Linked DNA regions of Homo sapiens. The protein of the gene in region 1 purifies or fractionates together with the protein of each later gene. This does not show direct contact. Each region holds a gene or a part of one and is shown in the gene's direction. Other genes may lie near its edges.

Evidence for each region.
Region 2: the proteins of BIRC2 (region 1) and CASP8 purify together in Homo sapiens (affinity purification with western blotting; 4 studies listed by BioGRID and IntAct, with this or other methods). This does not show direct contact.
Region 3: the proteins of BIRC2 (region 1) and TNFRSF1A purify together in Homo sapiens (affinity purification with western blotting; 9 studies listed by BioGRID and IntAct, with this or other methods). This does not show direct contact.
Region 4: the proteins of BIRC2 (region 1) and TNFAIP3 purify together in Homo sapiens (affinity purification with mass spectrometry; 5 studies listed by BioGRID and IntAct, with this or other methods). This does not show direct contact.

The regions. Positions count from the first base shown.
Region 1 is NC_000011.10:102,342,081-102,350,827, forward strand, and holds the start of BIRC2 (baculoviral IAP repeat-containing protein 2), read left to right. Parts: upstream 1-5,133; 5' UTR 5,134-5,296; exon of another isoform or gene 5,297-5,765; intron 5,766-6,517; 5' UTR 6,518-7,774; coding exon 7,775-8,669; intron 8,670-8,747. UniProt on the Homo sapiens protein: Multi-functional protein which regulates not only caspases and apoptosis, but also modulates inflammatory signaling and immunity, mitogenic kinase signaling, and cell proliferation, as well as cell invasion and metastasis.
Region 2 is NC_000002.12:201,283,814-201,288,467, forward strand, and holds the end of CASP8 (caspase-8 isoform 2 precursor), read left to right. Parts: intron 1-1,002; coding exon 1,003-1,504; intron 1,505-2,645; coding exon 2,646-2,781; 3' UTR 2,782-3,896; downstream 3,897-4,654. UniProt on the Homo sapiens protein: Thiol protease that plays a key role in programmed cell death by acting as a molecular switch for apoptosis, necroptosis and pyroptosis, and is required to prevent tissue damage during embryonic development and adulthood.
Region 3 is NC_000012.12:6,338,284-6,347,247, reverse strand, and holds the start of TNFRSF1A (tumor necrosis factor receptor superfamily member 1A isoform 1 precursor), read left to right. Parts: upstream 1-5,171; 5' UTR 5,172-5,433; coding exon 5,434-5,472; intron 5,473-8,964.
Region 4 is NC_000006.12:137,877,259-137,884,792, forward strand, and holds the end of TNFAIP3 (tumor necrosis factor alpha-induced protein 3), read left to right. Parts: intron 1-1,173; coding exon 1,174-2,093; intron 2,094-2,812; coding exon 2,813-2,994; intron 2,995-3,776; coding exon 3,777-4,061; 3' UTR 4,062-6,054; downstream 6,055-7,534. UniProt on the Homo sapiens protein: Ubiquitin-editing enzyme that contains both ubiquitin ligase and deubiquitinase activities.

The DNA.
Region 1 (8,747 bases):
CCTGGGGTAGGGGAGAAGCAGAAATGGGGTTTATCTGTCTAGGATGTTGTACAGCTACAAGATAAGATAGGGAGTCTCTGAGTTAGAGAACTTGGAAGGGCAGCAGAGGTTTGGGGTCTTTTATAGCTCTATGCTTTGTCTTATCTTTGGTTAACAGATGCCAGGTACGGTTTTATCTTTGGCTAGCAGGCAGACTCTAAATGGCTAAAAACATGGCCATCTGAGCTATGTGTGTGTGTGTGTGTGTGTGTGTGTGTGTGTATGTATATATATATATATATATATATATATATATATATATATATATACTTTTTTTTTTCTTTGAGATGGAGTGTTGCTCTGTATCCCAGGCTGGAGTGCAATGTCTCACTGCAACCTCCACCTCCTGGGTTGAAGAGATTCTCCTGCCTCAGCCTCCCAAGTAGCTGGGACTACAGGCATGCACCACCATGCCCGGATAATTTTTGTAATTTTTAGTAGAGATGGGGTTTCACCATGTTGGCCAGGCTGGTCTCAAACTCCTGACCTCAGGCAATCTGCCTGCCTTGGCCTCCCAAAGTGCCGTGATTACAGGCGTAAGCCACTGCACCCGGCCCATCGGAGCTACATTTGAGCAATTACATGGATAAAATTTTGAGCTTAGATAAGGTAAGTTTTGAGCTAATGGTCCCAGACTGACGTGAAGAAGCAAACAATATGCGCCCAATATACTCAGGCCGTCTTTAACACCTTTATTTTCCTAACTTTTAATTCATTGATTTTTGAAACTGGAGTTGCTGAAATTCTAATTTACATTAAATTATTAAGGTTTACTAATTAAGCCTTTAAATAATATTTCTGTAAATTTTTAAAACCTGACTTTTGATACAGATGCCAACATTTTAAAGCTGTCTTGGATTTTAAGAGTCTCAATATTATCTATAAAAATCTTTTTAGCAATTACCTTGGCTGAGTGCTCATATACAAAATAAACTGATTAAATCAAGGGAGCTATTGGATCCTCTCTAGTTCCAAAACCCTAATGAAGGGTTTTATGAAAATTAAAACCCAAAGTCTTACCACAGAAATATAAAGTGACTTTTTTTTTTTAAACAGATGAAAACATAATGCTTGGGATGCCTGCAAGTGACTAAAAGTTGGAAAGGGAAGTTCTGATGTGACCCAAATTTGTAAGTTCTTAATGTCCTATTTGAATTTTTTAAAAAATTCAAAAATTCAGGAATATATGCATGTCATTTGTGTACATACTGACAAAGACTATCTCTTTGACCAAACTTCTGAGCCTCTTCTGAGCCCTCTTCTTGACTAGGCCTTGACTTTGGGCCCTACCCCACCTGTAATTGTCGGCCTACCTCAGTCTTAATAAGAATCCTGTCAGTTTAGTGAGGATCCCGCCACTCTGGGTATCTGATCAAGTTCCTCATTCTCCACTTCTGAAGTATAAGCCCTTAGCCTGCCTTCAGCAAGAATCCTACCACCCCTGATGTCTCCTTTTAGTACTTTTCTATCCACTGACCCTCCTTACTCTACCTGTTGGTTATAAATACCCCAGCTGTCCTTGCTGTATTCCCAGTTGAGCCCAATCTTGCTTCCCTATTACAATGTTTTGATTGCACAGTCCTGAATAAAGTCTTCCTTACCATTTTAACAAACGTCAGAATTTTTTTTTCTTTAACAATACCTCACAACCAATCCTAACATTCTTTTATACTCACCTAACTTAAAAAATAAATAAAACATTACATATACAATTGATGCATAGGAAAAGTTTTTCAATCCCATTCATAATATAGCAATAAAAAATGGTAACTGAACTGAAATACTATTTATTATTTAACAGGTTGGCAACAATCCAAATGTCTGACAACTTACTCCACGGATGAAGCTGTGGGAAAAACAGGCACTCACATACATTGCTGATTGGATTGCAAAATGCCAACATACTCATGGATGGGTATGTGGCCATATTAGGCAAATTTATGTATGGATTTACCATTTGAACTAACTTCTGGGAATATATCCTAAAATAAGATGTGTTCCCATGATTATTCATTACAGCACTATTTGTAATAGCAAAAGGCTGGAAACCACCCAGATGTCCATCCATAGGGAAGTAGCTGAATATATTATGGTACTAATTTTATCTATGGCTGGGGAGCTTATTCAGGCTGGCTCCTTAGTCTTTGACACGGCCCTAACAGTTTTTGGCTGCTTTCTGAATTACATTGTTCAAGTTGAATATATTATGGCACATCTACACAATGGAGTACTATATAGAAATGAGGAATAGCTCTATATGTTAGTATTATACAATCTCTAGAATTTATTATAAAGTGAAAAAAGGTGGAGAAAATGTGCTACTACTGTTTATCTAAGAAAAGGGTAGGTATAAACATGCATAATTACATTTTTAAAATGAAAAAATGAATCATAAAAAGTGTTTAAGTCATTACTTATAGGGCAGGAAGGAAAAAGTAGAGGGGAGACCAAGGATTTTCAAAATAAAGGGAGTTACAGATGTGTAATCAAAGAGGTTAAATAAAACCTTGACTTCCTGAATTTGAATCGGAAGTATCAATGAGTTCATAATATATTTGATTTAAAAGACAAAAACCAAATCAAAACAAACCCATACTAACCAGCTCTGTCCATTGAACAGGTATAGAAACAATCAAACTCATTAACAACACGACAAACATTTTTTGTTTGTTTCTTTGTTGTTCCTTGCAGCGCCAGCTTAAAGGAGACATCCAGATTATGCTCTTTAAATATCATTTCCCACTAAAGGATCCAGGGCACTTAGGAGTAATGGCTTATTATGGGTATGGAGTAAGAAATACACAAAATGAGCCTGGAAAGCAAAGACTACTAGGAAAGTATCAGAAAGACTCAGGAGCCAACCTGAGTAAACTCTCACCGGCCTAAAATAAACAACTTGAGCACTAATAGTGGTAATAGCTACAGTGGATTACAACTCACCAAACTTCTTTAAATCCCTGGATTCATAATGATGGCTGTTTACTTTTGAGGGTTTTTAAAAAAAATCCGGCAGAGATTTTTAAATAGTATATGGTAGTGATCTAATTTTATTTTCCATTAGAATAACCATTCATTCAGCATTACTTATTGAGTAATTAATCATTTTCTCATTAATACATAATGCCAGTATATCAAATTCCCAAATACATAGATATGGGTCTCTTCTTGGGGCTCTGTATCTCCTTCCTTTAATTGTCCATCTTAGGGCGTTTAATAATACAAGACTGTCTCAATTACTATGGCTTTATTGTAACTCATTACCTGGTAGGACAAGACCTTCCAATCTTACTTTTCTTCTTCAAAATTGTTTTAAATACTGTAAATTTTTTTTCTACATAAATGTGAAAAACGTTAGAAGGGCAACTGCAGCAGACATACATAGCTTATTTTTTTAAGATTAACAGCAACTTTATACTAGCAAAATGAAAAAAAATTAACTGAATAAACAGGTAACTGAATTAACTAGCTGTAACACTAGACTACAAAGTTATACAAGATTAAAAGTTATGAGGTACTATTTATTATATGTAAATATTACAAATATTTTTTGTTAAAAATATCTAAGGCTTTTGAGTTTTTGAAATGCAAGCTTTCCCCTATACTTAAGTATATTCATTATCTTACTGCTTTGGTCAGGACAAGAACTGAAAAAGAGAAATAATCTTGAGTTCAGAATGAACAATTCTTGCTATATATATTTTCCCACATGTGTTAGGAATGTTCTGTAAACCTTCCGAGAAATAGTGACTTGAACTAAATACTAAACTACTACCAAGCCCCAGGTGCATTTTTGGAAGTTTTTAGTCATTGGGAGCCATGGCATTTCTTTTCTCTGTATTACAAACTGTTACACTCACTTTCTTTGACTATTAACATTGGAACAGTAGACCTCCTGTTCTGTGACTGACTGGCAGGCAGAAATGACACAGACAGGAAATGGGAAATGGTTCAGGGTCTTGGAATTCCCCCGGCTCCCTAATTAAGTGGCTTGCTATTTGGAAGTTTTTTAAATATTTGCCCCTTGGAGTTCCCCAGAGAGAAGCAAGCATCGGATTCAACGGGCAAAGAGCGTCAACTTCAAAAGTCGTTCGTTGGTTGTCATACCACAAACATTTACTGCACGACACTGTGTCTATGGCACTATTGGGGGAGTATGGCGGGGGGATACAAAAGGTCCATGACTAGCAAAAGCCAAGGGTTTTTATTTACAAATTTTCTATTACCTAAGCATTAAAAAAAATTGGGCTCCTCTCTGGTTTATGTACAATTATATGTGCATGTACACCAATACACAGGCAGACGTATATATTTCATTTTATTGAAACATTCAGAAAATACTGGGAGTGAAGCCTGACTTGCAATACAGTTCTCTTTGCTGGCAATGAGCATCTGAAATAATGACACTTTTTTCTTTAGTGCATATGAACTGTTTGTCTCCAGAACAGAAAACCAAAAGTTTAAAAACAAGATACTCCCGTTGACATCAAGTCTTCAGAATTATTCATCTGATGCTTCCTAGTTTCCAAAGTTTCGCTTTTTTCGATTTGCACAGGCAGCTGTTGAACGCTGATGCTACACAAACGGTTACAATTGTTTACTTAAGCAAAAAATGCCACCAGACTGACTCCATCCTCAAAATGCAGTCATCTGGACGGGGGGAGGCATCACACTTGGGGAGCCTTGCCAGGGGCCAGATCATAACCCTGAGGTGACACAGGGTAGGACGCGCAAAACCACCGGCGCCAGGGCGTTTCCGCAGGGTTTCCCAAAACTCAAACGCAGCGGCTCACGGTTTGCCACGTCCCCCAGGAGAATGGTAGACACAGAGAGGAAATGTGGAGAGGGCACAAACCGCAAGGTGAAGAAAACGAACAAACACCGAGTTGATACGGATAGTCCCCGTTCCCCTGAGGGCCGACCCCGTGACTCCCGATGAGCGTCCAGTTGCGCCGGGCATCCTGGCCTCCCAGCGTCTTTCCCGGAGGTTCATCGCCGCACGGCGGAAAGCGCTCTCGGTTCCGCTTTCCGGCCCCAGCCTCCCGGGCGCCCTCGCGCGGCGGCTAACGCTGGTCCTCGGCCGGGCGCGCTGACGTCATCGTGCGTCAGAGTGAGCCCGGATGGGGCGGCGGGCTTCGGGAGCGCCCGGGCTGATCCGAGCCGAGCGGGCCGTATCTCCTTGTCGGCGCCGCTGATTCCCGGCTCTGCGGAGGCCTCTAGGCAGCCGCGCAGCTTCCGTGTTTGCTGCGCCCGCACTGCGGTGAGTGCTGCTCCTTCCGGGCTCGGGCGGCGTGGGGCGGGTGGGGACGCGAGGGCCCGCGGGGGCCCACTTCCCTGATGTGGCGGCGAACGAGGAAGGACGGGGCCTGAGGCCCTTCGGCCAAGGGTCGAGGGTCGCCGGGGGCTCTCTGCTTTCTACTCTCGCCAAGGTTTTATTGGATTCGGAAGCCCCAACTTCGAGACTTGCAGTCAAAGCGATTTTTAAAATGACTTGTTTTCAAGCCTCTGGCCGCCGCCCACTCTTCTGGCCCTTGGACTTTGACCAAGATGTTTTCTCGCAGTTTTTGCAAGGTTTTAAACTTAGCCCTCGGCGTTCTTTTAATGTAATACATTGAAACGAAGATATTTCGGTGGCGGCGATATTTCATATTTCATAGTTGCCACTGCGCTCTGTCATTCCAGTAGTCGTCTGTTGTGTATTGTGAGAAGCAACTCTGGGAAATTATTGGGTAAATCCCATAGTTTCTATTCTTTTCCCTTCCATCCTATCCCCTGCCCAGCTGCAATTTGCGTAAAGAGAATGCAGCAGTGCGGTGCACGTAGATAAAAATCTTTCATTTAAAGATAGGATATAAGACCGGGTGTAATTAAAGCAATCATGCCAGTGGTCGTAGTGCCGGAGCCACTGTTTCACAGGCCACTGTGTTAGGTTTTGTTTTCGAGTTGCTTTCTGTGGTCGTTGCTTTGAAATTGTAAGGGAATGGCAGAGTTTAAGAGTTTATATTAATGAACTCGTGGTGCATTTTACTGCAGTTTTCCTAGTCGTGGAGAGACTTGATATTACAAACTAACGTTGCTGTCTTAATTCCTGCTGTACTGCTGCTGACAGGGTGTAGTGGAGTGTCTGTCTGTCTTTTTAACCAATGTGCCTTTGCCTCCAGCAGAGTGCCAGAGTTACCTTTAGGCCAGAAAAGGGGAGGAGAGCAAGGACAAAATGTTTCCTGTGTGAAAATTTCCATCTGTCTCTGAAGTTGTGCGTTTTAAAGACACGTATAGTTAGTGCTATGGGGAGTATGTTGCATTTACTTATTTTAATTAATAGCTTTTTCATTTAGAAAGTTGTGACAAATTGCTGGAATTAAGATGTATTATCTAAAGTGTGAATTATTCTTAGACTTTACTGAATAAATTGAAGAGTATGTAAGTTCTATTTGGCATGCACATACAGTTTTCTAAAATACTTTTTGTTTTTTCTTTTCAGATTTACAACCCTGAAGAATCTCCCTATCCCTATTTTGTCCCCCTGCAGTAATAAATCCCATTATGGAGATCTCGAAACTTTATAAAGGGATATAGTTTGAATTCTATGGAGTGTAATTTTGTGTATGAATTATATTTTTAAAACATTGAAGAGTTTTCAGAAAGAAGGCTAGTAGAGTTGATTACTGATACTTTATGCTAAGCAGTACTTTTTTGGTAGTACAATATTTTGTTAGGCGTTTCTGATAACACTAGAAAGGACAAGTTTTATCTTGTGATAAATTGATTAATGTTTACAACATGACTGATAATTATAGCTGAATAGTCCTTAAATGATGAACAGGTTATTTAGTTTTTAAATGCAGTGTAAAAAGTGTGCTGTGGAAATTTTATGGCTAACTAAGTTTATGGAGAAAATACCTTCAGTTGATCAAGAATAATAGTGGTATACAAAGTTAGGAAGAAAGTCAACATGATGCTGCAGGAAATGGAAACAAATACAAATGATATTTAACAAAGATAGAGTTTACAGTTTTTGAACTTTAAGCCAAATTCATTTGACATCAAGCACTATAGCAGGCACAGGTTCAACAAAGCTTGTGGGTATTGACTTCCCCCAAAAGTTGTCAGCTGAAGTAATTTAGCCCACTTAAGTAAATACTATGATGATAAGCTGTGTGAACTTAGCTTTTAAATAGTGTGACCATATGAAGGTTTTAATTACTTTTGTTTATTGGAATAAAATGAGATTTTTTGGGTTGTCATGTTAAAGTGCTTATAGGGAAAGAAGCCTGCATATAATTTTTTACCTTGTGGCATAATCAGTAATTGGTCTGTTATTCAGGCTTCATAGCTTGTAACCAAATATAAATAAAAGGCATAATTTAGGTATTCTATAGTTGCTTAGAATTTTGTTAATATAAATCTCTGTGAAAAATCAAGGAGTTTTAATATTTTCAGAAGTGCATCCACCTTTCAGGGCTTTAAGTTAGTATTACTCAAGATTATGAACAAATAGCACTTAGGTTACCTGAAAGAGTTACTACAACCCCAAAGAGTTGTGTTCTAAGTAGTATCTTGGTAATTCAGAGAGATACTCATCCTACCTGAATATAAACTGAGATAAATCCAGTAAAGAAAGTGTAGTAAATTCTACATAAGAGTCTATCATTGATTTCTTTTTGTGGTAAAAATCTTAGTTCATGTGAAGAAATTTCATGTGAATGTTTTAGCTATCAAACAGTACTGTCACCTACTCATGCACAAAACTGCCTCCCAAAGACTTTTCCCAGGTCCCTCGTATCAAAACATTAAGAGTATAATGGAAGATAGCACGATCTTGTCAGATTGGACAAACAGCAACAAACAAAAAATGAAGTATGACTTTTCCTGTGAACTCTACAGAATGTCTACATATTCAACTTTCCCCGCCGGGGTGCCTGTCTCAGAAAGGAGTCTTGCTCGTGCTGGTTTTTATTATACTGGTGTGAATGACAAGGTCAAATGCTTCTGTTGTGGCCTGATGCTGGATAACTGGAAACTAGGAGACAGTCCTATTCAAAAGCATAAACAGCTATATCCTAGCTGTAGCTTTATTCAGAATCTGGTTTCAGCTAGTCTGGGATCCACCTCTAAGAATACGTCTCCAATGAGAAACAGTTTTGCACATTCATTATCTCCCACCTTGGAACATAGTAGCTTGTTCAGTGGTTCTTACTCCAGCCTTTCTCCAAACCCTCTTAATTCTAGAGCAGTTGAAGACATCTCTTCATCGAGGACTAACCCCTACAGTTATGCAATGAGTACTGAAGAAGCCAGATTTCTTACCTACCATATGTGGCCATTAACTTTTTTGTCACCATCAGAATTGGCAAGAGCTGGTTTTTATTATATAGGACCTGGAGATAGGGTAGCCTGCTTTGCCTGTGGTGGGAAGCTCAGTAACTGGGAACCAAAGGATGATGCTATGTCAGAACACCGGAGGCATTTTCCCAACTGTCCATTTTTGGAAAATTCTCTAGAAACTCTGAGGTTTAGCATTTCAAATCTGAGCATGCAGACACATGCAGCTCGAATGAGAACATTTATGTACTGGCCATCTAGTGTTCCAGTTCAGCCTGAGCAGCTTGCAAGTGCTGGTTTTTATTATGTGGGTAAGAAGCAAATAACTATACATTTTATCATTTTATTTTAATTTACATATTAGAACATACGTGTTTTCAATATTTAGT
Region 2 (4,654 bases), on another chromosome or scaffold:
GGCTGACCCCCCCCACCTCCCTCCCGGACGGGGTGGCTGCCGGGCGGAGACGCTCCTCACTTCCCAGACGGGGTGGTTGCCAGACGGAGGGGCTCCTCACTTCTCAGACGGGGCGGTTGCCAGGCAGAGGGTTTCCTCACTTCTCAGACGGAGCGGCCGGGCAGAGACACTCCTCACCTCCCAGACAGGGTTGCGGCCCAGCAGAGGCGCTCCTCACATCCCAGACAGGGCGGTGGGGCAGAGGTGCTCCCCACATCTCAGACGATGGGCGGCCGGGCAGAGACGCTCCTCACTTCCTAGATGGGATGGCGGCGGGGAAGAGGCGCTTCTCGCTTCCTAGATGGGATGGCGGCCGGGCAGAGACGCTCCTCACTTTCCACACTGGGCAGCCAGGCAGAGGGGCTCCTCATATCCCAGACGATGGGTGGCCAAGCAGAGACGCTCCTCACTTCCCAGACGGCGTGGCGGCCGGGCAGAGGCTGCAATCTCGGCTCTTTGGGAGGCCAAGGCAGGCGGCTGGGAGGTGGTTGTAGCAAGCCGAGATCACGCCACTGCACTCCAGCCTGGGCACCATTGAGCACTGAGTGAACGAGACTCCATCTGCAATCCCGGCACCTCGGGAGGCCGAGGCTGGCGGATCACTCGCGGTTAGGAGCTGGAGACCAGCCCGGCCAACACAGCGAAACCCCATCTCCACCAAAAAAAAAACGAAAACCAGTCAGGCGTGGCGGCGCGCGCCTGCAATCGCAGGCACTCGGCAGGCTGAGGCAGGAGAATCAGGCAGGGAGGTTGCAGTGAGCCGAGATGGCAGCAGTACCGTCCAGCTTTGGCTCGGCATGAGAGGGAGAGGGAGACGGGGAGAGGGAGAGGGAGAGGGAGACGGGGAGAGGGAGAGGGAGAGGGGTCAAATTCTTATCTATCAATGTTATGCCCACTGTGCTCTCCAGCTGTGGTCTGTGAATTACTGTGGTATAACGTGACTGTTCAAATTTCACTTTTCAGGGGCTTTGACCACGACCTTTGAAGAGCTTCATTTTGAGATCAAGCCCCACGATGACTGCACAGTAGAGCAAATCTATGAGATTTTGAAAATCTACCAACTCATGGACCACAGTAACATGGACTGCTTCATCTGCTGTATCCTCTCCCATGGAGACAAGGGCATCATCTATGGCACTGATGGACAGGAGGCCCCCATCTATGAGCTGACATCTCAGTTCACTGGTTTGAAGTGCCCTTCCCTTGCTGGAAAACCCAAAGTGTTTTTTATTCAGGCTTGTCAGGGGGATAACTACCAGAAAGGTATACCTGTTGAGACTGATTCAGAGGAGCAACCCTATTTAGAAATGGATTTATCATCACCTCAAACGAGATATATCCCGGATGAGGCTGACTTTCTGCTGGGGATGGCCACTGTGAATAACTGTGTTTCCTACCGAAACCCTGCAGAGGGAACCTGGTACATCCAGTCACTTTGCCAGAGCCTGAGAGAGCGATGTCCTCGGTAAGTTTTGCCTACTCAGCCCTCCTCACTGTTACACTACCTTCCCCCCCTACTCCATCACACTACTATCTACTCATATTCAGAGCCTATTAGAAAGTGCTATGTGATTTAGATCACATTAACAGGTCAGAGAACTGTCCAAGGGGAGTGGTTTCCGTTCAACTCTAAATGTCTAGCTGTAGATCACATAGCTGCATTTCCCAGGTCAGTTACAAAGTGGGAGAGTGGCAAGTGTTAACATCCTTAGTTTATAGATGGAAAAGCTGAGATGCTTTATTCCTTTATTCAGCACCTCAAAGGACAATCAGGGTATCACAGAGCAGGAAAGGATAGGAAAGTCATATACTCCAGCTCTCTGTCTTTAGGCCAAAACATGACTGAGCCAATTCAACTAGTTTTGGAAATCTTCCAAGAAGGCAGTAACCCAATTCAATGTTTAAACATCCTCCAACTCTGTCAAAAGTTCTATAATAGCAAACCATCCTCAAAACCTCTTGGTGCATTATGGGAGATAAATAGCAGGTTCCTTCTAGCCCTGTATTTCATGTTTTGAGTATATGAAGAGTGAGAATTTCCCGTAACTTAGATCATGAATCTAACTTAGATTTCGTAACTTAGATCATGAATCCTGCAAGGTTTCCGCGGCTAGCTACCAAGGTAGAAGAAGAGGTTGCCTAACAAAAATGCTAAGAGATCCTGGTGAGAAGAAGGTGGGAGTAGCTGCAGGAGACGTTATACTTTCACTTGCCTTAAGTTTAATTGCATCAAAGATGAATCCGCAGATGCGATGTCAATTCGAGGCAGAGAGTATTGGGGGGCATTGAAGCAATGGGGAGCCAAGTAACGTGGAGAAGAGTGAGAGACACACAGGTCAGGAGAGAAAGAAACCAACTCTAATACTGACACCGAGGTTTCTGATGGTCAAAAGAGTTCCTGAATAAACCAAAAGTAAGTTATTAAGCTCTGAGACAACCCATTTACCAGGAAAGCTGGGGTAGGTCTTGGTTTCGCACCTTATTGTTTCAAATGACTGATATTTTGAGAGAAAGAACTACAGAACTATCTCTGAGCACAGCAGAGGAGACAGTTCATCAGTTGCTTTCCCCCACAGACAGTCACAATATTATGTGATGTATTTCAGAGGCGATGATATTCTCACCATCCTGACTGAAGTGAACTATGAAGTAAGCAACAAGGATGACAAGAAAAACATGGGGAAACAGATGCCTCAGCCTACTTTCACACTAAGAAAAAAACTTGTCTTCCCTTCTGATTGATGGTGCTATTTTGTTTGTTTTGTTTTGTTTTGTTTTTTTGAGACAGAATCTCGCTCTGTCGCCCAGGCTGGAGTGCAGTGGCGTGATCTCGGCTCACCGCAAGCTCCGCCTCCCGGGTTCAGGCCATTCTCCTGCCTCAGCCTCCCGAGTAGCTGGGACTACAGGGGCCCGCCACCACACCTGGCTAATTTTTTAAAAATATTTTTAGTAGAGACAGGGTTTCACTGTGTTAGCCAGGGTGGTCTTGATCTCCTGACCTCGTGATCCACCCACCTCGGCCTCCCAAAGTGCTGGGATTACAGGCGTGAGCCACCGCGCCTGGCCGATGGTACTATTTAGATATAACACTATGTTTATTTACTAATTTTCTAGATTTTCTACTTTATTAATTGTTTTGCACTTTTTTATAAGAGCTAAAGTTAAATAGGATATTAACAACAATAACACTGTCTCCTTTCTCTTATGCTTAAGGCTTTGGGAATGTTTTTAGCTGGTGGCAATAAATACCAGACACGTACAAAATCCAGCTATGAATATAGAGGGCTTATGATTCAGATTGTTATCTATCAACTATAAGCCCACTGTTAATATTCTATTAACTTTAATTCTCTTTCAAAGCTAAATTCCACACTACCACATTAAAAAAATTAGAAAGTAGCCACGTATGGTGGCTCATGTCTATAATCCCAGCACTTTGGGAGGTTGAGGTGGGAGGATTGCTTGAACCCAAGAGGTCAAGGCTGCAGTGAGCCATGTTCACACCGCTGCACTCAAGCTTGGGTGACAGAACAAGACCCCGTCTCAAAAAAAATTTTTTTTTTAATAAAACAAAATTTGTTTGAAATCTTTTAAAAATTCAAATGATTTTTACAAGTTTTAAATAAGCTCTCCCCAAACTTGCTTTATGCCTTCTTATTGCTTTTATGATATATATATGCTTGGCTAACTATATTTGCTTTTTGCTAACAATGCTCTGGGGTCTTTTTATGCATTTGCATTTGCTCTTTCATCTCTGCTTGGATTATTTTAAATCATTAGGAATTAAGTTATCTTTAAAATTTAAGTATCTTTTTTCAAAAACATTTTTTAATAGAATAAAATATAATTTGATCTTATTGCTCCTTGGAGATTTTTTGTGTTTGGTTTTGGTTTCTGCCAATGACATCTCACAGGTGGAAAACATCTGGACTACAGACATGTTCTACTTGAGTCTCCCATGATCGGCACACACAGTTGTATTTTTAAAATTTGTTGTCAATGTTTAAAAATTAGGAGATATCACATAAAAACCAGAATAACTTCTTTTAAAAAATCATACTATCTGACAATATTGACCTCATGCTTTTGCATGGCAAAGGTCTGAGAAGCACCTTCTTCAGATGGGACAGTGCTCTGTGGGTCACTCTTCCCCATCCGCTGTGCCCCAGCCCTGCCCAAGCCCCTCTACTGAGGCTGCTGTTGGTTGCCACTTATCACTGTGCTTGGGCAATTGTTTTCCTTATGTCTAGCCCACTTCACTTATTTATGTTGCCTGCACTGTGGGTGTCTGAATTCTGGTGATGGTCCAGAGGAGGTGGTAAGAATCATCAGAAACCCTTCCTAAGTCATAGGTTAGGGAACATGATTGAGAGGTAGGGAAGTAGGGGGCATGGGTGTGAGAGAAAAATATTTTAGAGTAAAATCAACACATCATCTTTTTTTGCTACCTAAATGCCCCAGGGGACAAAGGTACACCTCCCAAATATAGTAAAAGTTCAATATGAAGAAGGCCTTCAAATCAGTTTCTTTCTAACGAAATACGTCAAGGTAGAAGAAAAATAGTACAAAACTCAGAGAAAGCTCAGCTCCCAGTATGGAGAGCATCATTTTTCAG
Region 3 (8,964 bases), on another chromosome or scaffold:
TGCCCCGGCACCTCTGCCCTGTGTCTTTCATACCTCTACATGTCTGCTTGAGATATTTCCTCAGCCTGAAAGTTTCCCCAACCATCTGCCAGAGAACTCCTATGCATCCCTTAGAACCCTGCTCAGACACCATTACTTTTGTGAACGCTTCTGCCACATCTTGTCTTCCCCAAAATTGATCACTCCGCCTTCTCCTGGGCTCCCGTAGCACACTATAACATCTGCTGGAGTGTTGCTGTTGCACCATACTTTCTTGTACATTTGTGTCTCCCTTCCCAACTAGACTGTAAGTGCCTTGCGGTCAGGGACTGAATCTTGCCCGTTTATGTATGCTCCATGTCTAGCCCATCATCCTGCTTGGAGCAAGTAGGCAGGAGCTCAATAAATGTTTGTTGCATGAAGGAATGTCTGGAGAGCTGGATGGGGCATCATGAAGAGGGTAGGGGGTGGATACAAGTCATCACCCAAGCTTCTGGGAGGTCCTGGGGCTGGGAGAGGGTACAGACTCCCATGCCCCTTGGCTGCACCATGGAAGTGACCATTCTTCACGGGGTCTTAAGAGGGACAAACGTTCTGGTGAATTCCTCCATGGGTGTTGCTGAGCGTCTGCTATGTGCCCATGGCCATGTTAGGGTGGAAGGGGGAAGACATGATGCCACCCCTTCAGGGGACCTACCTCACAGTGTTTGGGGAGACTTGCCCTCTCCACTGTCTGAACCTCCTTTTCCTTCTCTGCTTTAGTCACCATCATCACTAACCTCCCCATCCCCCACTCCACTTGCTGAGTCCCACTTACCACCTGGCGGCAATGAACCCTCATCTGCCTGCCTCCCATCAGCTGTCTGGTGGTGGTGGAGGATGATGAGGCTCAGGCCAGTTTCTCCTGGAAATGCAAAGCCTTATATGGTCTTATTGGTACATGATTGCAGAGAGGGGCACAGGGAATCCTCCCAGCTTTAGTAAAGGAGAGACTGAGGTCCAGGGAGGGGCTGAAGGATGTGCGAGTGGAACTCCAGCTCTCCGATCCTTGTTTCTCCCCCACTCCAGCATAAGACCTGGAATCCAGAAGTGACCCTTTCTCACCATCTTTGGGGATTCTGTCCCTGCCACCTTAGTCTTATTCATCTTAATTGCAGTCTCCCTGTTCTGAGGAGCCAAAGGAGGAAGAGACTTTCGGGGAAAGAGGAGAAGGAGCTGGTGACAGGGGTAGGAAGGTAGACAGGGTCATGACCTGAAACGGTGTGACGACTGCTGACTTCCCTTTCCTGGACTTGAGCTGATGAAGGGGAAATGGTGTTGCAGTCTCCTCTGTCAGAGCCCTCAGGTGCAGACGGCACTTGTCTGCCCCCTCAGCCTCAGCCTTGGCCCACCTGGTCCCCAGTGCCCTCTCCTCTGGCTGGGGCAGGAGGACCTGCCGGACATAGCCAGATGTATTACGGATGACTGCAGTCAGCTCCCCCAGGCTCCTGCTTCTCTTGCCTCCTGCTTTTTTCCCCAGAGCTGTCTCCTTATCTCCATTCACTTGTCTATGGGTTACTCCTGGACCCTGGGGTTAGGAGTTGGAATCAGGCTGTTAGCGATAAAAGGGTTCAAGTTGACTCATTTTCCTTATCAGGCTTAGTAGTTGAAGTGACTTGCTGAGCTTCATAATTCTTAGAGAACCTGCCATGAACCCAGCTCCCTTTCTATGACTCACCCTGCCACCCTGTGACACATAGAGTCTGAATGGCAGGTCTGGGGCTAGAACCCACGTCATCTGGACTTGGAGTCCAGTGACCCTTTGGGTTAAGCATGTGTGTGTGTGTGTGTGTGCCATGATGCGGGAGGAAGGTCCCTGCTCTCTGTAGCTGTTTTCTTCATCCTTTGCTCTACAAGCCCTAACAGCCGATTCTGTCATCCCTAGTCTGCCCCTCTCCTGTTTCTCCATCTCCTCTGACCATGATTTTTTTCTGTCCCTGGAGGGATGATGGTCTCATTCTCACCTCCTCCACGAAACGTGTTAGCTTTTCATATTCCTAGATCCACTCACTTCTCATCATCTTTTTTTTTAAACAAAATTTTATTGAAAAATGTAATATGACGTGTCAAAGTTGTAAAGTTATTGAGTAAATAAGCATGTATCCTAAATATTGAAAAATATTCTCCTTTTGTACCAGGCTATGTGTCACGGCTTTGGCGCTTTGCACAGACTATTAGAAATACCTTATAACATTAAAAATAGGACATTGAGGCCGGGCGTGGTGGCTCATGCCTGTAATCCCAGCACTTTGGGAGGCCAGGGTGGGTGGATCACCTGAAGTCAGGAGTTTGAGACCAGCCTGGCTAACACGGTGAAACCCCGTCTCTACTAAATACAAAAAATTAGCCGGGCATGATGGCACATGCCTATAATCCTAGCTACTCGGGAGGCTGAGGCAGGAGAATTGCTTGAATCCGGGAGTCAGAGGTTGCAGTGAGCCGAGATTGTGCCACTGCACTTCAGCCTGGGCAACAAGAGTGAAACTCTATCAAAAAAAAAAATAGGACATTGAAGTTGGTTTCTTTTTTTGATACAGAGTCTCGCTCTGTCACCCAGGCTGGAGTGCACTGGCAGGATCTCGGCTCACTGCAACCTCTGCCTCCTGGGTTCAAGCAATTCTCCTGCCTCAGCCTCCTGAGTAGCTGGGATTACAGGCACGCGCCACCACGCCTGGCTAATTTTGTATATTTAGTAGAGACAGGGTTTCACCATGTTGGTCAGGTTGGTCTCGAACTCCTGACCTTGTGATCCGCCCACCTCAGCCTCCCAAAGTGCTGGGATTGCAGGCGTGAGCCACCGCACTCTGCTTTTTTTTTTTTTTTTTGCCGCCCTCTCACATACCATACTCCCCTGTATCACTTATCCTTCTGAAGTTGTTATTAATCATTAATACAACTAGCTGGGCATAGTGGTGTGCGATGGTAGTCTTAGCCACTCGGAAGGCTGATGTGGGAGGCTAGCTTGAGGCCAGTAGTTCTAGGTTAGGTGAGCTATGATTGCACCATTGCACTTTAGCCTGGGTGAGAGCAAGCTCCTGTTTCAAAAAAAAAATTAATTGCTACCACTTACTAAATGCTTAATATATGGCAAACACTTGCCAAACACTTTATATGCTTGATTTAAGCATCAAGCTAGCTCTGTGAAGGGTACCAGCAGGTTTCCCATTTTTTAGATGAGCAGACCGAGGTTCTTCTCGCTGCTTCATACTGGAAACTTGCACTTGATTCTGAGGCTCCTGCTTCTTCAAGAACACTGCTTTGGGTTCGCTTCTCCTGTCCCTGGGGTCTCCCTTTGTGATGGTGGTGAGCTGCTTCCTTTCTGAATCCAGCTTCAACCCTACAGTTCTCCAGAAGCTGGACGATGGGGTGGAGTAAAGTCAGCTCCCCCCGCAGTGAGGGACACTGAAGCTCCATTCTCATCTGCGGATCACAGAGGGGAAGCCAGGAAGAGCCAGGGGACGGTGGACTTGGGGCTGGGAGGTCATCTCAGAGGGATAAGGGGTGAGGAGCTCTGGTTTCAAGTTCCAAAGCCCTAGGACCTCCCTCTTCTCTGTCTGCCTGCATTTCTAGCAGCCTCAGCAGCTGCAGGCCCTTGGGCGGGGCTGGATGTAGGGAAGGTCATTGTACCAAGAAGATAGTTGGGTAAATGTGGTACCTTTGTTGTAGGATTCTCTTGGGAGATGTCTGCATCAATGAGGATGGCATAAAGTAACCAGAGTCAGGATGTGGGGTCTGACTCAGTGACAGAAAAAGTGGCAGTGTGTCTCTCATAGCCAAAGGGGCCCTTGGACCGGCAGTCGGGAGTCTGGGGTTCTCTGTTGGCTCTGCCTCCTGGCACATTGGGTTTCTGGACCTCAGTTTTCTCCTCTATAAAACCGGGCAGTTGGGTGGGCACGGTGGCTCACACCTGTAATCCTAGCACTTTAGGAGGCTGAGGTGGGCAGATCATTTGGGCCCAGGAGTTCAAGACCTGCCTGTGTAACATGGTGAGACCCTGTCTCTACAAAAAATACAAAAATTACCCAGGCGTGGTGGTATGCACCTATAGTCCCAGCTGCTTGGGAGGCTGAGGTGGGAGGATTACTTGAACCTGGGAGGTCGAGGCTGCAGTGAGCTGCGATGGTACCACTGCACTCCAGCCTGGGAAACGGAGCGGACCCTCAAAACAAAAACAAAAATGAAAAACAAGCAAACGAAGAAATAAAAAAACCTAGGGGGTTGTAGTCGATGATCTGTAAGGTGAGTTATAATTGATGTATTGGAATATTTAGGAAAAGGGCACTGGGAATATGCTAGGAACACCTGATGGAGGTATCTTTATTTCCACGGCAGCTTCGTGGATACGTCTCATTGATTCTCATGGCATCACTTTCCCCATGTAGGTGGGCAGACATTGTTACCCCTGTTTAATAAACAAGGAACCAACAGAGGCTTAGGAGAGGAGTTGCCTGATGTCGCATGATTGGTGGCAGAGCCAGGATCAACAGTGGGGCAGGGTGGGGGGACCTGGCCAGGCAGAGACTGGATGAGACCTGGGGTGAGGAATGGCAGGCACCCAGTCAGGGCAGAAAACGAGGGTTGGGACTTACTTTGAGTTTTGGATTGGATCAGTAAATTCCCAAGAAAGAGGGAGACTAGGAGGCTAGTGAAGAACTCTGGAGTAAAGGGGAGGATTACTAAGGGACATGGAGTACCTATCATGTGTCGGACGCTTATCTATATCTCTCCCATCTGAACAAATCCTTACAGGAACCCCAGGAGACAGGTTATCTCCACTCTGCAAATTGGAAAACAGATCCAGACAGTTTCAGTTATGTGTCTGAGAAGTTCATTTATGTGTCCAAGACACATTCTTAGCTAAAAAGCTAAGCATTCTGAATTGGAACCCAGAGAATTTGACTCCCAGACTCTGGATCTTTTCACTGCTGTGATCCATCTGGGAAAGGCTAGTGATGTGGGCAAGGGGCTTATTGCCCCTTGGTGTTTGGTTGGGAGTGGTCGGATTGGTGGGTTGGGGGCACAAGGCAGCCAGATCTGGGACTCCTGTGCTTGTGACTGGACTACAAAGAGTTAAAGAACGTTGGGCCTCCTCCTCCCGCCTCCTGTGGCCTCCTCCTCCAGCTCTTCCTGTCCCGCTGTTGCAACACTGCCTCACTCTTCCCCTCCCACCTTCTCTCCCCTCCTCTCTGCTTTAATTTTCTCAGAATTCTCTGGACTGAGGCTCCAGTTCTGGCCTTTGGGGTTCAAGATCACTGGGACCAGGCCGTGATCTCTATGCCCGAGTCTCAACCCTCAACTGTCACCCCAAGGCACTTGGGACGTCCTGGACAGACCGAGTCCCGGGAAGCCCCAGCACTGCCGCTGCCACACTGCCCTGAGCCCAAATGGGGGAGTGAGAGGCCATAGCTGTCTGGCATGGGCCTCTCCACCGTGCCTGACCTGCTGCTGCCACTGGTGAGACCAGGGACAAAGGGAAGAGTGGGCTGGTGGGCGAGGCACCTTCCGGCTGGCGTGGGCCCTCTCCGGGAGGGGGCCGAGCCTCTCCTGCCCGGGCCTGGTCCTGGCGCCAGCCTCAGGCCTGCAGGTCCTAACCTCAGCCACTGCCAGTGTGGGGTTCCCCATTCATCCGCCTTTTGGAGTAGGGGCTGCGCTGAGGCAGGGGAATGGGAGAAGTTTGAAAGGGAGAGAGTAAAAGGAAGCCCTGGCCCCTGACAGCGGTGGAAGTTTGTGGGCGGCCAAGGGAATGTGGGCAGGAGATAGGCCCAGGGTGGGGCAGATTTGGCGGGGAAAAGAAGGGAGTGGGAGTAGGAAGATTAGTGCTCGGGGAGTCCAGACGGTTCTGAATTCTGTCCCTCCGGTCAGCTGGCTGGCCTGGAGGGTGTTGGGCCGTGGGGAGGCGAGGCTGCCTGTGGAACTTGGTGGAGCACACCCTGTAGGGCAGGATTTTGGCGGCTGGTGAAGTGGGGGAGTGAGTTGAGGAGTGGGGATGGGCTGGTGTGGTGGGTTTGGGATGCTCATGGTGGGAGGTATTTGAGAATGGGCTGGGACACTGGATGGGGCAGGGCAACCCAGTGGACAGTGTCCCCAGTGCCCTGGCCAAGCCCCGGCCTCTCACCTGGGGACATTCTTTACCCTTTTGCCTGCTGCTAGGCAGGTAGCCGCTGTGGGACTGAGCCTTCCCAGGGAGCTAGTCCTACCCCCACCTGGTCAGTGTCCCTGGGCCTGTCCTCCAGCTTCCCCTCCCCGCTGCTTCTCACAGACCTAAACAACAATCCCTTGGTTTCTTATTCTACAGTTCAGTTTGGGGAAGTTGGTAGAAAGTTGTTTTCGTCACTGGAAAATGTCCCTTTCTCTGGCCTCAGCCTTGTTTCAATGTATCCTTGATCGTCCTCCACGTCTTGGTCCGGGAATCATCCTGTTCAGATGTCCTGGGCCCATCTAGTCAGGCAGATTTTCCCTGCCCTGCCCGGCCTCTGAAGGCTGCGCCTACCTCCCCTCTCTTTAGTGCCTTATACTCTTCCTCTCCTACCATTCCTTTCTTCCAGCAATCTCCCCAGACTCTCCTCAGACTTCTCAGAGCCTCTTTTTTTGAAATCTTTTCTCGCTAATCCTCCTTCCCCTCCTCTCTGCTCCGCTCTGGTCCCGGCCCCAGGTCCCCAGGCAGCACGTCTCTGGTCAGGGTCTCACTCTTCTTCTTCTGCCTCCTCCTGCCTCCTTAGTCCCACCCGCTCTTCCCTTCTTCCCACTGTCCTTCCCCCACGGTCTCCCCACCAGCCAGCTGCCCTGACATCCTGCTTCTGTTTTCTGTTTGGGGGCGGCCCCTGGCTCCCTCACATACCTCCTGCATGAACAAGAGCAGCTTATATAACCTAACCTTCCATGCCTTCGTTTCTTTATCTCCAAAATGGGTGTCACAGTCTTGACCTCATACTGTTGTTTTGAAGATTGAATAGACTGATACATGTTAAGTGTTCATTTGATTTATTAAGTGTGCGCTCTGGGCTAGACACTGTGATAGGTGCTGGGATTACAGCAGAGAACAAAATCCCTGCCCACAGCTTTGACAGTCCATCAGGGGAATAGGTTGTAGCAAATAGAAAGCACTCAATAAAGTTTTTATATTGCTGTGACTAGTAGTAATTACTGGGTGGCTACCTGTGTTGGGAAAACAGAGGGTAAAGGTAGCCTGAACAGGTAAAGGGAAGTGCCTGCGTCCTGGGGTGCTTCAGCCCAGGTGGGATTATGTCTCCTAAGGGACAGAAGCCTGGCCTGGAGCTGGAGGAAAGGGAAAACAAAGGGAATGCAACATCCTTCTGAATTTCTCACCATTCAGTGGGCAATGCAGAGCTCACAGTGTGTGTGTGTGTGTGTGTGTGTGTGTGTGTGTGAGAGAGAGAGAGAGAGAGAGAGAGAAGTGGGGTAGGGGAGTAGGGAAGAATGATACAGGAGAGACTGTGGCAAAGCAAACAGGATTTTGCTGCTCTCAAAGAGCTTACAGCCTAGTAACCAAGATGGCTTACAGTGAAAAATGATTTCAGAGCAATCCCGAGGAAAATATCCACAAATGCATTGTGATGTGGTGTCCTGGAGCACCAGTTGGGAGGAGGAGGAACTGGGGAAGGAGGTGAGCCTTAGTCCACTGCCTTTCCTTGCTTAGCAGGTCTCAGCTCCTGCGCTCAGCTCCAGAAAATTCAGGAGCTTCCCCACGCTGCTTCAGTGTCCTTCACTGTGCAACTGCAGCACTCCCTGTATAGATCTCAGTGCCTACAACTGACTGTCTTTGACTCAAGTGAGAGCTCTTGAGAGCACGAGCTGTGTATTATCCACCTCAGCATCCCTAGCACCCATACGGGACCTGTCACATTAACTGTGCCCCTTAACTATTTGCTGAAGGAATTAAGGAACAAGAGATGTGTCAGATGGGATGGCGGAGGGAAAGCCTCATAGAAAAGTGGATGTGGAGCTGACATCTGAAGTCACTGCCTGTCAGGGTAGCTATAAAGGAGGGAAGCAGAGTTGGATACTGATGTGAGGAAGAGGAGAGGAATGGAGAGATGGGATTTTGTGTTGATGGGCAGGGTGGCAGGAAGCCAGACACCTTGGTTCGGGAGTGGAAAAACCATGTTGAGAAACACTAAGAAATGTGAATGGGAGAATTAGAGGGAGTGGGGGAGAGGATGGAGGAAGAGTGTTGAATATGGTTCCAGGTGGAGGAATTCATTCATTCGTTTATTCAGAAGCTGTTCTCCTAGGGCACATTCTGTGCCCAGACTGTGATTAGAAGTGAGGTGAGGCATCTCAGATGGGTGCTGTGGTTCATGCCTGTAATTCCAGCACTTCAGGAGGCCGAGGTGTGTGGATTGCTTGAGTCCAGGAGTTCGAGACCAGCCTGGGCAACACAGCAAAACCCTGTCTCTACAAAAAATACAAAGATTAGCGGGGCATGGTGGGGCGTGCTTGTCATCCCAGCTATTCGGGAGACTGAGCTCGGGAGGACGGCTTGGGCCCAGGAGGTGGAGGTTGTAGTGAGCCCTGACCACACCACTACATTCCGTCCTGGTGGTGAAGGTTGCAGTGAGCTATGATTGTGCCACTGCACTTCACCCTGGGTGACAGAGTGAGACCCTGTTTCAAAAAAAAAAAAAAAAAAGTAGTGAGGCATCTGTGGAAGTCTTCAGATCATTTCCATGACCATGGAAATGCTGTTTGGAGCCAGGCCCTGGAGATGGAGAGGAAGGTTCACACACTTGTGCGTGCAAGTTAAAGCCTGAATGAAGATTTAAAAAGTGTGTAGGACGGATGGGAGCAGGAGAGAGGCTAGAAGACACTTGCAATAACCCAGGTGTGAGGCAACCCAGGAATGCGGAGAGGACCGAGAGATCACAGGGGGAGGCCTCGCAAGATGAACTGACACATGGGATGGCGGCAGGGATAGGGATGGGGCCC
Region 4 (7,534 bases), on another chromosome or scaffold:
AAGCAGTTTATGTTCAGCTCTCTCCTGTGTCATCTGTAACTGTCTTTAACCTCAGCCACCTGAGTTGCTGCCACCCTGAAGCTCAACAGTAGAGTGATTTGCGGCCAGTTTCTGCCAATGGGAAACAAATTCAGAGTCTTGTGCATGGTTAGAGAGGATTATGTAAGGCAGTACTAACTTGGGTTTCAAATCAAAACATGTCATTTATCCATAATGATTTTCCTGGATATCTGGATCCCAAAAGTCAGAATTGCAGAATTATGGGTTTTCAAAGTGCATTTACATCAAGGATAGTTGTTGTTTCTTGTTTTTGTATTTTAATTACTCTGGTACATATTAAAAAGACTAGTGAAAACACTTGGAAACAAAAGCCTTTCTCTCTTGGCTTCTTGGTAAGAACAGGCACATCAGACATAGATGGAGCTGTAGAATTGTTTATGTTGCAGCTCATGATTCTGCCACATGGAAATGGGAGGAAAGCCCCAGAATACCCATTGTGCAGGTATCCGGTCTTTAAACATTGGCTTTATGTTAAAGAGATGCCTGTTTCTGAGCACTTGAAACGCACAACAGATGACAAGGAAGCCGTAAGAGAATCTGTCTCTCAATGTGGAGATTAGCAAATTACAGAGTCAACAGTAAATAGACAAGCGCCTTTGAGTGTGTCTGCGTCTTAGTTACTCATGGCTGCTAATGCTGGTGGAGACTAGACACAAGTTTAAAGTTAGTAACAGCAAAATACCCAACCTGAGGTTCCAAAGTAGTTTGTACTATAAAGTAGACTAGTCCCAAACCAATGGCCTCAGTAATATTTTACTCAGAATTTGATCTCTGAGAAATTGGAAAGTCAACTGATTTTTCTTAGCCCTTGTTTTAGAACTATCTATAATTTTTGGATGGACCAAGATTGATTAAATGAAACTGTGATTTTAAAAATAAGGAAGTCTTAGCAAACTAACTGACATCATTCTTGACTCGAACATGTTGGGAAATGTGTCAGATCATGTTGCGTGAAAAGTGTGAGCTCTTCATCACAGGCCTGCATTTCAGTGAATGGTTCTACAATTCTTGCCATAATCCACATTCTAAAACTTTGTTCTATGAGCTAATGATGTAAAATCTTGTGTGTGATTTTGTGTATTCTCATACATATTTTTTCCTTTTGGTCTTCAGGTTGGATGAAGCTAACTTACCAAAAGAAATCAATCTGGTAGATGATTACTTTGAACTTGTTCAGCATGAGTACAAGAAATGGCAGGAAAACAGCGAGCAGGGGAGGAGAGAGGGGCACGCCCAGAATCCCATGGAACCTTCCGTGCCCCAGCTTTCTCTCATGGATGTAAAATGTGAAACGCCCAACTGCCCCTTCTTCATGTCTGTGAACACCCAGCCTTTATGCCATGAGTGCTCAGAGAGGCGGCAAAAGAATCAAAACAAACTCCCAAAGCTGAACTCCAAGCCGGGCCCTGAGGGGCTCCCTGGCATGGCGCTCGGGGCCTCTCGGGGAGAAGCCTATGAGCCCTTGGCGTGGAACCCTGAGGAGTCCACTGGGGGGCCTCATTCGGCCCCACCGACAGCACCCAGCCCTTTTCTGTTCAGTGAGACCACTGCCATGAAGTGCAGGAGCCCCGGCTGCCCCTTCACACTGAATGTGCAGCACAACGGATTTTGTGAACGTTGCCACAACGCCCGGCAACTTCACGCCAGCCACGCCCCAGACCACACAAGGCACTTGGATCCCGGGAAGTGCCAAGCCTGCCTCCAGGATGTTACCAGGACATTTAATGGGATCTGCAGTACTTGCTTCAAAAGGACTACAGCAGAGGCCTCCTCCAGCCTCAGCACCAGCCTCCCTCCTTCCTGTCACCAGCGTTCCAAGTCAGATCCCTCGCGGCTCGTCCGGAGCCCCTCCCCGCATTCTTGCCACAGAGCTGGAAACGACGCCCCTGCTGGCTGCCTGTCTCAAGCTGCACGGACTCCTGGGGACAGGACGGGGACGAGCAAGTGCAGAAAAGCCGGCTGCGTGTATTTTGGGACTCCAGAAAACAAGGGCTTTTGCACACTGTGTTTCATCGAGTACAGAGAAAACAAACGTGAGTGAAGTGGTTGACTTCCTAACACAGCGGCTGCTGTCCAGAAGGGGTTTTGTTCCTGACCTTTAAGAAAAAAAGCCCATGTAGGCAGTCAGGCAGAACTGTCAGGACCTACCGTGCTTTTCTACCAGCTTGTGCAGGGGACAGTCACGGTGGCCCTGCCAGCCGCCCATGGAGGCAAAAGGCACTGCGTGATTACAGCAGCTCCTAATATCACATTCCAAAAACCAGAGTGCCCTGTAGACAGAGCTCATGGGATGTGCTTTTACTAGACCATTCAGGTCTGGCATATCTAAGAGAGTCTAAGTTTAAACTAGACTTATTTTGCAACTTAGATATAACAGAACAATCTTAAAATCTGAAGAGTAGTAACTGGAGAGAAGGAAGTCTCTGTTGACACTGTAAGGAAACAGATGTGGTTTGGAAATCTCTCATTGGAAAGAAGGGTGATCAGGTAATGCCTGCTCCTTGCCTGTTCCTGTGAGCAATCAGTGCTTCAAGTTCAAAATGAGAGATTGGTAAAGCCAAAGATGTTTCCATAATAGGGATGTTATTTCTTTTGCTGAATTTATAGACTTAAACATATACATATATATATTTCTATACATTTAAGGCTGGCCTAATCTGTATTTGGAACCCATTTATTTCTCTACTGTCAGCATCTCTGTATCGGTGGGGTGACCCCTATGTGGTACTAACTAGCATCCATTCTCATGTAGATTTTGCTGCTGCCTCAGGGAAAGTCAGTCCCACAGCGTCCAGGTTCCAGAACACCATTCCGTGCCTGGGGAGGGAATGCGGCACCCTTGGAAGCACCATGTTTGAAGGATACTGCCAGAAGTGTTTCATTGAAGCTCAGAATCAGAGATTTCATGAGGCCAAAAGGACAGAAGAGCAACTGGTGAGACACTTGGAGGAGCTTTCCCTCCCTCCCGTGTGTTCGATGCTTTTTGCTGGAGCGTTTTCTACCGACAGTGACAAGCAGGCTTTCCTCTCTGCCAGGTTCTGTCTCCTCATGATAAAGGATTAATTCAGAACCTGAAGGGGAATGTCCATGTCACTGTGGCTCCCCAGGTCCGAAATGCTACCTCCAATTTTCATGCTCCAAGTATGCTTTCAAATTTATTTTAAAAACAAAGAAACACAGCCATTGCATAAAACTTCTTCAAGCCTCCAAAAAGCCAGATGGTGATCAGAGGCTTCTTTGATTTGTAAGAGAAGCACAGACATCTAAAAAGCAGCCCTTCTTAAATAATCCTTTATCATAAGGAGCGAACAGACAGAGCTTCCCAGGGGCCTGCCTCCACCTAATGGCGCGTCAGAAAAGCCAGCTTTGACAGATAGGTGTGTCGCCTGTTGCTCACAGAATGGTAGGGAAGCTATGTAAGAACAGTGGTTTTTGGTCCCAACAGAAGAGAGCCAGGGAAAGTTTGCAGGCCAACTTAGGCTTGGCGGTTTTCCTCAGCCTCCCTGGGGGCCAAGTCAGCTTTCCTTGAGACTGGAAAGAAACATCCTTCGAGAGCTCTGGCTCATAGACTGCAATGCTCTCCTGTTCCCTTGCTCAGGCAGGTAAAGCTCTTTGTAGACTCCACACTCTCCAATGAGATTTCATTGTGCTCTCCCTAAGAAATGTGAGCAATAGTTTCCTGACTTTTTAATGATCTGCCTGTTCTTTCCACTCAGAGATCGAGCCAGCGCAGAGATGTGCCTCGAACCACACAAAGCACCTCAAGGCCCAAGTGCGCCCGGGCCTCCTGCAAGAACATCCTGGCCTGCCGCAGCGAGGAGCTCTGCATGGAGTGTCAGCATCCCAACCAGAGGATGGGCCCTGGGGCCCACCGGGGTGAGCCTGCCCCCGAAGACCCCCCCAAGCAGCGTTGCCGGGCCCCCGCCTGTGATCATTTTGGCAATGCCAAGTGCAACGGCTACTGCAACGAATGCTTTCAGTTCAAGCAGATGTATGGCTAACCGGAAACAGGTGGGTCACCTCCTGCAAGAAGTGGGGCCTCGAGCTGTCAGTCATCATGGTGCTATCCTCTGAACCCCTCAGCTGCCACTGCAACAGTGGGCTTAAGGGTGTCTGAGCAGGAGAGGAAAGATAAGCTCTTCGTGGTGCCCACGATGCTCAGGTTTGGTAACCCGGGAGTGTTCCCAGGTGGCCTTAGAAAGCAAAGCTTGTAACTGGCAAGGGATGATGTCAGATTCAGCCCAAGGTTCCTCCTCTCCTACCAAGCAGGAGGCCAGGAACTTCTTTGGACTTGGAAGGTGTGCGGGGACTGGCCGAGGCCCCTGCACCCTGCGCATCAGGACTGCTTCATCGTCTTGGCTGAGAAAGGGAAAAGACACACAAGTCGCGTGGGTTGGAGAAGCCAGAGCCATTCCACCTCCCCTCCCCCAGCATCTCTCAGAGATGTGAAGCCAGATCCTCATGGCAGCGAGGCCCTCTGCAAGAAGCTCAAGGAAGCTCAGGGAAAATGGACGTATTCAGAGAGTGTTTGTAGTTCATGGTTTTTCCCTACCTGCCCGGTTCCTTTCCTGAGGACCCGGCAGAAATGCAGAACCATCCATGGACTGTGATTCTGAGGCTGCTGAGACTGAACATGTTCACATTGACAGAAAAACAAGCTGCTCTTTATAATATGCACCTTTTAAAAAATTAGAATATTTTACTGGGAAGACGTGTAACTCTTTGGGTTATTACTGTCTTTACTTCTAAAGAAGTTAGCTTGAACTGAGGAGTAAAAGTGTGTACATATATAATATACCCTTACATTATGTATGAGGGATTTTTTTAAATTATATTGAAATGCTGCCCTAGAAGTACAATAGGAAGGCTAAATAATAATAACCTGTTTTCTGGTTGTTGTTGGGGCATGAGCTTGTGTATACACTGCTTGCATAAACTCAACCAGCTGCCTTTTTAAAGGGAGCTCTAGTCCTTTTTGTGTAATTCACTTTATTTATTTTATTACAAACTTCAAGATTATTTAAGTGAAGATATTTCTTCAGCTCTGGGGAAAATGCCACAGTGTTCTCCTGAGAGAACATCCTTGCTTTGAGTCAGGCTGTGGGCAAGTTCCTGACCACAGGGAGTAAATTGGCCTCTTTGATACACTTTTGCTTGCCTCCCCAGGAAAGAAGGAATTGCATCCAAGGTATACATACATATTCATCGATGTTTCGTGCTTCTCCTTATGAAACTCCAGCTATGTAATAAAAAACTATACTCTGTGTTCTGTTAATGCCTCTGAGTGTCCTACCTCCTTGGAGATGAGATAGGGAAGGAGCAGGGATGAGACTGGCAATGGTCACAGGGAAAGATGTGGCCTTTTGTGATGGTTTTATTTTCTGTTAACACTGTGTCCTGGGGGGGCTGGGAAGTCCCCTGCATCCCATGGTACCCTGGTATTGGGACAGCAAAAGCCAGTAACCATGAGTATGAGGAAATCTCTTTCTGTTGCTGGCTTACAGTTTCTCTGTGTGCTTTGTGGTTGCTGTCATATTTGCTCTAGAAGAAAAAAAAAAAAGGAGGGGAAATGCATTTTCCCCAGAGATAAAGGCTGCCATTTTGGGGGTCTGTACTTATGGCCTGAAAATATTTGTGATCCATAACTCTACACAGCCTTTACTCATACTATTAGGCACACTTTCCCCTTAGAGCCCCCTAAGTTTTTCCCAGACGAATCTTTATAATTTCTTTCCAAAGATACCAAATAAACTTCAGTGTTTTCATCTAATTCTCTTAAAGTTGATATCTTAATATTTTGTGTTGATCATTATTTCCATTCTTAATGTGAAAAAAAGTAATTATTTATACTTATTATAAAAAGTATTTGAAATTTGCACATTTAATTGTCCCTAATAGAAAGCCACCTATTCTTTGTTGGATTTCTTCAAGTTTTTCTAAATAAATGTAACTTTTCACAAGAGTCAACATTAAAAAATAAATTATTTAAGAACAGATTGTGATGTTTTCAATTGATGAATGCTGAAAGAAAAAGAAAGGCTTGGATATTAAGACTGTGCTTCCTAAGCAGCTTTATTTTGAGGTGCACCTGAGCAATGCACACATCTCTCATCCATGGTAGCAAGGCAGCTTTTCATAAATAATAACTGTATGAGGTCCAGGCCCAGTCCTCAAGCACAAGCCCCCGCTTGACAATGAAGACACTCTTCCTCTGATGGGAAGAGGAAAGGGATGCTAGGACCCTGTGGCCCTTTTAAGCTTCCTGCCCTAAACTTTTATAAAGTGAAGAAAGAGAAAACAAGAGGGAGGAGGAGGGAAAGACAGGAAAGAGAGAAGTAGGCAGGCAGGAAGGAAGACTGATGTAAGATCTCCTGGGTCAGACAAAGCAGAGGAGGCAGCGTGGCTGTGCTGGCTGCCAGAACCAGGAAATTAAAAAATAACACATTCCTCCATGCGCAAGCCTTCATCCCCACCTCCCATCCAGTACAAATGGACTCACAGACGACTGATTCAGCAGGACTGCGCAGCTCCCAGAATCTACTTTTTTAAGCTCCTCGGGTGATCTGGATGATCAGCCAGATTTTAGAATCACACTTTAAAAAATATATTTATAATTTTTTTTTAACTTTTTAAAAGTAGAAAACTTTAATAAGAAAGTGACAAGTACTATAAAGAGCCACTCTATAGCCATCCTCCAGTTTCAATAATTACCAACGTTCTGCCCAATTTGTTTCATCTATCACATCCTCTTTTTTGTTTTTCCTGGACTACTTGAAAGCAAATCCCAGATATTGTGTCTTCATACCCATAAATATTTCAGTGTGCACCTCTAATTGAATAGAATATGTCCTTTTAACATAACCACCATTATCAGAGCCAGCTAAATTATTTTATTCTTTAATATCCAAATTCCAAGTATGTATTCTAATTTCTCAGTTTATCCACCATACAAGACAAAGTCTTATTGCTTTCGTTTAGTAAGGATCTTTTCTTTTTTTTTTAATGTTTAGCAATATTTATTAGGACGTATACCTACCTTATGATCCAAAAATTCCAATCCTAGGTATACACTCAATGGTATACACTCTACTCCTAGCTATACACCCATAAAACAGAAATGCATGCATATGTTCACCAAAATATGGTACTAAAATGTTCATCTCAGCAGTATTCATAATAGCTCCAAACTACAAACGATCCAAATGTTCATTAACAGGAGAAAAGAGAAATATATTGTGGTATATTCATATAATGGATTATCATATAGCAGTAAGAGTGAATAGGCACCTGTAGTTCCAGCTACTCAGGAGGCTGAGGTGGGAGAACTGCTTAAGGCTACAGTGAGTTATAAGGCTCTATTTATTTATTTATTTATTTTTGAGACAGAGTCTTTTTTAAATTTTTTTTTATTATACTTTAAGTTCTGGGATACATGTGTAGAACGTTCAGGTTTGTTACATAGGTATACATGTGC